Linked DNA regions of Homo sapiens. The protein of the gene in region 1 interacts with the protein of each later gene in a biochemical or structural test. Each region holds a gene or a part of one and is shown in the gene's direction. Other genes may lie near its edges.

Evidence for each region.
Region 2: the proteins of RANBP2 (region 1) and OPN1LW form a complex in vitro, tested with the Homo sapiens proteins (one study listed by BioGRID).

What each region holds. Positions count from the first base shown.
Region 1 is NC_000002.12:108,778,482-108,781,981, forward strand, and holds part of RANBP2 (E3 SUMO-protein ligase RanBP2), read left to right. Parts: intron 1-2,787; coding exon 2,788-2,948; intron 2,949-3,500. UniProt on the Homo sapiens protein: E3 SUMO-protein ligase which facilitates SUMO1 and SUMO2 conjugation by UBE2I. Involved in transport factor (Ran-GTP, karyopherin)-mediated protein import via the F-G repeat-containing domain which acts as a docking site for substrates.
Region 2 is NC_000023.11:154,142,863-154,147,042, forward strand, and holds the start of OPN1LW (long-wave-sensitive opsin 1), read left to right. Parts: upstream 1-1,380; 5' UTR 1,381-1,421; coding exon 1,422-1,533; intron 1,534-4,180. UniProt on the Homo sapiens protein: Visual pigments are the light-absorbing molecules that mediate vision. They consist of an apoprotein, opsin, covalently linked to cis-retinal.

The sequences.
Region 1 (3,500 bases):
TTCTCTAATGTCTCAAAGCTTGCCAAATTAATTATTCACTTACAGTAACATTACTGTAGGCCCAGTTATGACCTGTGAGACCCAGATATTGATATATTACAAATACTTTTACAAGTGGGTGATTCTAATGTGTTCCCAGGGTAGAGAACCACTATTTTGAAATAATTTTGAATTCTTCTGCCACATGTCCCTTGGGGTTATTTTTTAAATTTTTGCTTTTGGCAAAAAAGTTGCTGAACAATTTTGTTTTTGTTTTTGTTTTTGAGACAGGATGTCACTCTGTTGCCCAGGCTGGAGTGCAGTGGCATGAACACAGCTCACTGCTGCCTTGACCTCCTGGGCTCTAAAGCAATCCTTCCACCTCAGCTTCCCAAGTAGCTGGGACCACAGGTGTGTACCACCATGCCTAGCTAATTTTTACATTTTTTGTAGAGACAGGGGTCTCACTATGTTACCCAGGCTGGTCTCAAACTCCTGGGCTCAAGCAGTCCTGCCACCTTGGCCTTGCACAGTGCTGGGATTGTAGGCATGAGCCACTGCACCTGGCCCTGAACAGTTATTTTTGAGCCCCCAAGTTGGTATCTCATCCAGATCAGTGGTTACTGTTCTCAGGAAGTTCCCATGCAACCTGTGGCTTTTGTTCTCAGATCATTCCTTTGCAATATGTCCTTAAGAATTTTTGTCTTTCTGTCTCTTTTTTTTGAGACGATCATTCTGTTGCCCAGGCTGGAGTGCAGTGGCGCAGATCTCAGTTTACTGCAACCTCTGCTTGCTAGGTTCAAGTGATCTCCTGCCTCAGCCTCCTGAGTAGCTGGGATTACAGGCATGCACTGCAACACCCCGCTAATTCTTTTAGTATTTTTAGTAGAGATGGGGTTTCGCCATGTTGGCCAGGCTTGTCTCGAACTCCTGACCTCAAGTGACCAGCCCGCCTCGGCCTCCTAAAGTGCTGGGATTACAGGCATGAGCCACCACACCCGGCCCTCTCTCCTCTTTAAAAACATTTTTTTTTCCCCTCCATTAAATCTGTCTGAAAGAGAGTTGATTTTTTATTGTGTTCTTTAAGGTACTGAGTTATGTATCCTGTGACATTTTTTCTTTTTCATGAGAGTTTTTAGCAGAAGGTGTAGGGTTCTTTAAGACAGTGATTCAGCAAGTGATAAAAAGTTGAGAGGTGTTTCTTTCCTCTAAGATAGTGGGGACTTGGTCATCTAAATTGAGGTATGGGATGGAGAAGTTTCTAGTTTTCACCTTCTTGCAGGTATGCGAGAGTGAGACCATCATTGTTCCCCCATACAGAAGTAGGATGCTTAACAATCTAATACCCTTTGGGCAGTTGAAGTCAGTGAGATTCTCCCAAGGCTGCTTTCCACCAGCCCAACCAAGAAATCTACATTCCAGCATTAGCTTCTTCAGGAAGAAGTAGAGATGCAGAAATTATAAACATGTTTAGGCCATTGTGGCTAATTTGGAAGTAGCAGGTTTGGCCTGCTGAGCTAAGTTTACAAAATTTCAAGGTGGGTACTTGAAATTTTAGAAGTAGGTAAAAAGAACCTACTTCTTTACTTGGAAGTCCTTGTGTAGTTTAGTATTAGGAAGTTTATCCAAGGCAGTGACAGTCTTATCTTTGTATCGCTAAGCATAACAATAATAAATGTACTCTGTACTCAACAGTATGAGTTGAATTTACTAGCTTTTTTTTTTTTCCTTTTTTTCCTTTTTTTTTTTGGTGACAGAGTCTTGCTCTGTCACCCAGGCTGGAGTACAATGGCACGATCTCTGCTCATTGCAACCTCCGCCTCCCAAGTTCAAGCGATTCTCCTGCCTTAGCTTCCTGAGTAGCTGGGATTACAGGCACCCGCCACCACGCCCGGCTAATTTTTTTTTTTTTTTTTTTTTTAAAGACAGAGTCTTGCTCTGTCGTCCAGGCTGGAGTGCAGTGGGGCGGTATCTGATCACTGCAACCTCTGCCTCTCAAGTTAAAGTGATTCTCCTGCCCCAGCCTCCTGAGTAGCTGGGATCAGTCACCCATGACCACACACTGCTAACTTTTTTTTTTTTTTTTAAAGACAGAATCTTGCTCTGTTGCCCAGGCTGGAGTGCAGTGGGGCAATCTCAGCTCACTGCAACTTCTGCCCCCCAGGTTGAAGCGATTCTTCTGCCTCAGCCTCTCAAGTAGCTGGGACCACAGGCGCATACCACCACTCCCGGCTTTTCTTTTCTTTCTTTCTTTCTTTTTTTTTTTGAGACGGAGTTTCACTCTTGTTGCCCAGGCTGGAGTGCAATGGTGCCATCTTGGCTCACCGCAACCTCCGCCTCCTGGGTTCAAGCGATTCTCCTGCCCCAGCCTCCCGAGTAGCTGGGATTACAGGCATATGCCACCATGCCTGGTTAATTTTGTATTTTTAGTAGAGACGGGGTTTCTCCATGTTGGTCAGGCTGGTCTTGAACTCCTGACCTCAGGAGATGCGCTCACCTCGGCCTCACAAAGTGCTGGGATTACAGGCGTGAGCCACTGCGCCCAGCCTAATTTTTGTATTATTAGTAGAGATGGGGTTTCACCATGTTGGCCAGGCTGGTCTCGAACCCCTGACCTCAGGTGACCTCGGCCTCCCAAAGTGCTGGGATTACAGGCGTGAGGAATTTACTAGAATAATATAATTTTAAACATTTAAAATTGATGTACATATTACATCATCAGGAATTAGAGGGATTGATAAAATAAGAGGGGGATGAAAAATGTAAAAAATAGATACTAGTGTTTAAATATCCTGATTTATTCATCAGATAAAAATTTCCAATGGGCAAATACTGGAGCAGCTGTGTTTGGAACACAGTCAGTCGGAACCCAGTCAGCCGGTAAAGTTGGTGAAGATGAAGATGGTAGTGATGAAGAAGTAGTTCATAATGAAGATATCCATTTTGAACCAATAGTGTCACTACCAGAGGTAAATGTTAAGGAATTAACCTTTTACTAATAACTTATTTTTCATTTTTAAGTTTTACCCTGGCTTGATCTGTCAGGGTATAATTGTTTGCATTTAAGAATGTTTACTGTTTGAAATGGAAGCTCTATTTATTAGATGTCTAGCCTTTAAGTATAAATTATCTTTTTACAGTTTTTACATAAATATTGGTTTGTAAATTCTATATGTAATTATTGGTAAGAAATAATTTTTTCTTATGTTTCTAGAATATCATGTTTGTTTTTATAACATGATTCTGGGGAAAAATTAACCTCATACTCACTAAAGTCCTTTCAATAAATGTTAACCTTGTATGTTTTTTGGACAAGAACATTGTTCTAGGAAAATTACTTTGTCATTTTTTAACCTCAGTCAGTAGCTAATATTTCTCTTCAGTAGCAAACACTTTTGAAACCTCTCTGTCCTATAAAGAAAAGCATTTAATTTCCAAAGGGAAAATGAATATTATATAAAAGAAAATGTTTAATGATAAATCAGGTCTTTACTCCCTCAGCCAAATCAGATATATTCCTA
Region 2 (4,180 bases), on another chromosome or scaffold:
GCTCTGTTTGTATTCATGTACGGGTTTTTGTGTGGACACACATTTTCAAGTCTCTTGGGTACACAGGTGTAGAAGTGCCAGAGTTGGGGAAAAAGCTCACCTTTCTAGGCTGTGAATGGGCCCTGGCAAGTCTGTGGCCAGGACTCGTCTTCTCTTCCACATGGGGCCCCTAGCTTGGCACCTAGCACGTGGCAGGCAGCGACAGATGTTAAAAGCCATTCTTGCTATGGGTAGCCAGGCTGGGGCTCCATGCAGCCCTGGCCTTCAGCTTGGCAGCCAGGGCCCCCTTGTGCCTGCAGCAGAAGCCATGCTGCCAGGAGTGTAAGTGTGAGCCAGGAATGCTGGAGAATCGTGGCTCTGAGAACAGGGACAAGAGGCCACAAGCTCACGCCTTGGCTTTCCTAAGCTTAAGGAATAAACCCAAAAGGAGGTACCTGGAAGGAGCTGGATTTGGGGACTGAGGAGCTGGGAGCTGATGGAAGCCGTGAAAGGGGATGTGCTCCTGGGGAGGCGCTGGGGCGGGTGGGCCGTGGAGGGGACAGGGCCCGTTGGTTGGAAACTGAGGCGAGGCTACGGAGTTGGGCACTAACAGGTCATCCGTGCCCCTGCGAAGCGTGGGGACACAGGGACAGCAGAGATGGCCTGTCTGGACACTCTGTCGACGGGGGGCCTGTGGTTGGTGAAGCCCAAGGCAAGGCTGTGAACTCAGGGCAAGGGAGACGTGAGCAGGCGCTGCCGTGGGCTGATGTGGGCACTGCATGTGCACCCTGGCGGCCAAAGGACCTACAGCTCATGGGGGGCAAGGGGGAGGAGGGAAGCCAACAGCAGGATGTGCGCAGTCAGTCTGCCCCCCCTACACTGGAGGAGGAGCCCCCCGGCACAAATCTCGCCCGTTTGGGCCCACGGACATGGCTGGCCTCGCAAGGAGGATCCGGTTCCAGGCCTCGGCCCTAAATAGTCTCCCTGGGCTTTCAAGAGAACCACATGAGAAAGGAGGATTCGGGCTCTGAGCAGTTTCACCACCCACCCCCCAGTCTGCAAATCCTGACCCGTGGGTCCACCTGCCCCAAAGGCGGACGCAGGACAGTAGAAGGGAACAGAGAACACATAAACACAGAGAGGGCCACAGCGGCTCCCACAGTCACCGCCACCTTCCTGGCGGGGATGGGTGGGGCGTCTGAGTTTGGTTCCCAGCAAATCCCTCTGAGCCGCCCTTGCGGGCTCGCCTCAGGAGCAGGGGAGCAAGAGGTGGGAGGAGGAGGTCTAAGTCCCAGGCCCAATTAAGAGATCAGGTAGTGTAGGGTTTGGGAGCTTTTAAGGTGAAGAGGCCCGGGCTGATCCCACAGGCCAGTATAAAGCGCCGTGACCCTCAGGTGATGCGCCAGGGCCGGCTGCCGTCGGGGACAGGGCTTTCCATAGCCATGGCCCAGCAGTGGAGCCTCCAAAGGCTCGCAGGCCGCCATCCGCAGGACAGCTATGAGGACAGCACCCAGTCCAGCATCTTCACCTACACCAACAGCAACTCCACCAGAGGTGAGCCAGCAGGCCCGTGGAGGCTGGGTGGCTGCACTGGGGGCCACCGGCCACCCACCTGCCCCGCCCAAGGGAATCTCTCTTCTGCACGTCCCCACCAGCAGAGAAGGCTTTCTCCCATAGCTTTTCTGATGACATGAATTGGGGGGTCCTCTCCAAATCTAGAAGGACACCATAATATCGAATATGCATTCTCAAGCCACACAGGCTTCCCAGCCCCTTTGAGAATCCGAGGCCGGGGAAGAGTTTATGTGCTCTTTCTTTGTGGCCCGTAGATGAGTGTGTTCACTGCTAGCGAATGACCTCTCATTCCACGGAGTCCCTCAGCTTCCTGGGGAAGAGCTGGGTCTGTCTTTACATTTGAAGCCGAAAGGAGGCAACATACTGACACACCCAAGGGAGGCGGGAGGGTGGGGAAGACAGCAGCAGAGGGCAAGAAACTTCTAGAACTTCAGGGTCGGCAAAGCCTGTAGCAGTCATTTTGTCAAACTCCATGATGGGGCCACTTGGCTTTTGGCTGCACACCTCTGGGGGAAGAGGCTGCATTGGCGCCCAGGGCCATCTTTCCATTCGGAGCCGTCCTGGGAGAGAGGGCTCAGGCCCAACAGAAAGCTGAAAGCTCTCATCAGGGCAGCCCGAGTCCTGCCATTGGGAGTTGCCCAATCCGAAAGTTTTGCACGCAGGCCCTCAAAGAAGCTGAGGACACCAGTGACCGCCCCACTCCTGGCCCTCTCCCCAGGTCCCTCCTCCAAACCAAATTCCTTTGGTGCCTTCAAGAACATCGTGCAGGCCGGGCACAGTGGCTCACGCCTGTAATCCCAGCACTTTGGGAGGCAGAGGCGGGCAGATGACGAGGTCAACAGATAGAGATCATCCTGGCCAACATACTGAAACCTCATGTCTACTAAAAATGCAAAAATTAGCTGGGCTTGGTGGCGCATGCCTGTAGTCCCAGCTACTCAGGAGGCTGAGGCAGGAGAATCGCTTGAACCCGGGAGGTGGAGGTTGCAGTGAGCCGAGATCACGCCACTATGCTCCAGCCTGGCCACAGAGTGAGACTCTTGTCTCAAAACAAAACAAAACAAAAAACAACAACATCGTGCAGGCTGTGGTTTCCAGAAGCCACGCCAGCTCCTTGATTGCCAATAAACATCCCGCTGTGGGGTGGCCAGGACCGAGTGCCAATTAGTGACAGAGTGCCCAGACCAAACCGGATGAGGATCTTGCAGTTGACCTCAACATGACTGTGCCCAGAATTTCCTTGGTGGCAATGTCAACAGTCTCTTCCTAGATGCCCCCAGACTTCATCAATGCATGATGCTTCAGTGCACTCTTTTCAAATGTCGGGGTGGGTTTTTTTTTTTTCCACAAAACTTCAAGCATCTACTAAAGTAGAGGGAGGAGTGTAATGAACTCCGGTACCCATCACTCAGCTTCCACGGTTTCATCTCATTTCATCTGTGACCCCTCCACTACCCTTTCTTCCTGATTCTTGGAAGCAAATCCAAGACATCACACCCTTCCCTCTGTAAATCTTTACTATGTTCCTCTAGGAGAAAAGGGCTCTTCTCAATACATAACCACAAGTCATCATCACACCGACAAGTGTAACAGTATTTCCTGAATAGCTTCAAATATCCTAGTAGTGTTCAAAAAATGTCATACGTATTTTCAGTCTGCTTGAATCAGGGCTCAAATAAGGTCCACACATTCAGATTGACTGATATGCCTTTTGACTACCTTTGAATCTAGAGGTTCCCTTTCTATCTCCCTGCAATTTATTTGTGGAAGCAAGCAAGTCGTTCATGACGTAGCCTAACAGGCCCCTCTGACGTTGTTCATTATGATTTTTCTGTAAATTGGTAGTTGATCTGAGGATCTGGCCAGAGGTAGGTTGGATTTGTTGGTGTGTTTTGGCAAGGAGAGTGTCTCTTTTCTGGGGTGTTGGCAGCTACTGAAACTCAATGCCCAGACCAATTAAACCACTGGGGATGGAAAATGACGGCATTCGGACACCTTACCCTGCCTTCACCTATTGGTGACCAAAACCTTAACATCTTCACAGGTCTTCTTACCCTGAGGGTATATGCCACTAGGTTGTGTAGTAAACCGGTGTGTTTCCAGTCCCTTAGAATAGTCCCTCTCTAAGTGATATGCCACTCAGTGGATATGCATTTAGCTTCATTTCTTTTGTTGCTGATTTTCAGAGATTGCTCTGTAAATTTAAACTTTTATTTTACTTTATTTTATTTTTTCGAGACAGTCTTACTCTGTCGCCCAGGCTGGAGTGCAGTGGCGCGATCTCAGCTCACTGCAACTTCCGCCTCCTCGGTTCGAGCGATTCTCCTGCCTCAGCCTCCCGAGGAGCTGGGACTACAGGTGCCCGCCACCACGCCCAGCTAATTTTTTTTATTTTTAGTAGAGACAGGGTTTCACCATGTTGGCCAGGCTGGTCTCCAACTGCTGACCTCAAGTCGTCCGCCCACCTCGGCTTCCCAAAGTGCTGGGATTACAGGTGTGAGCCACCGCCCCCGGCCACTTAAATTTTGTTTTATAATTATGTAATAAAACAGTTAAAAGTCTCAAATTAAAATCTAGAAAAGAAGGTGTATTTGAAGAAGTCTGGCTTCTCTGCGCCACCACCGAC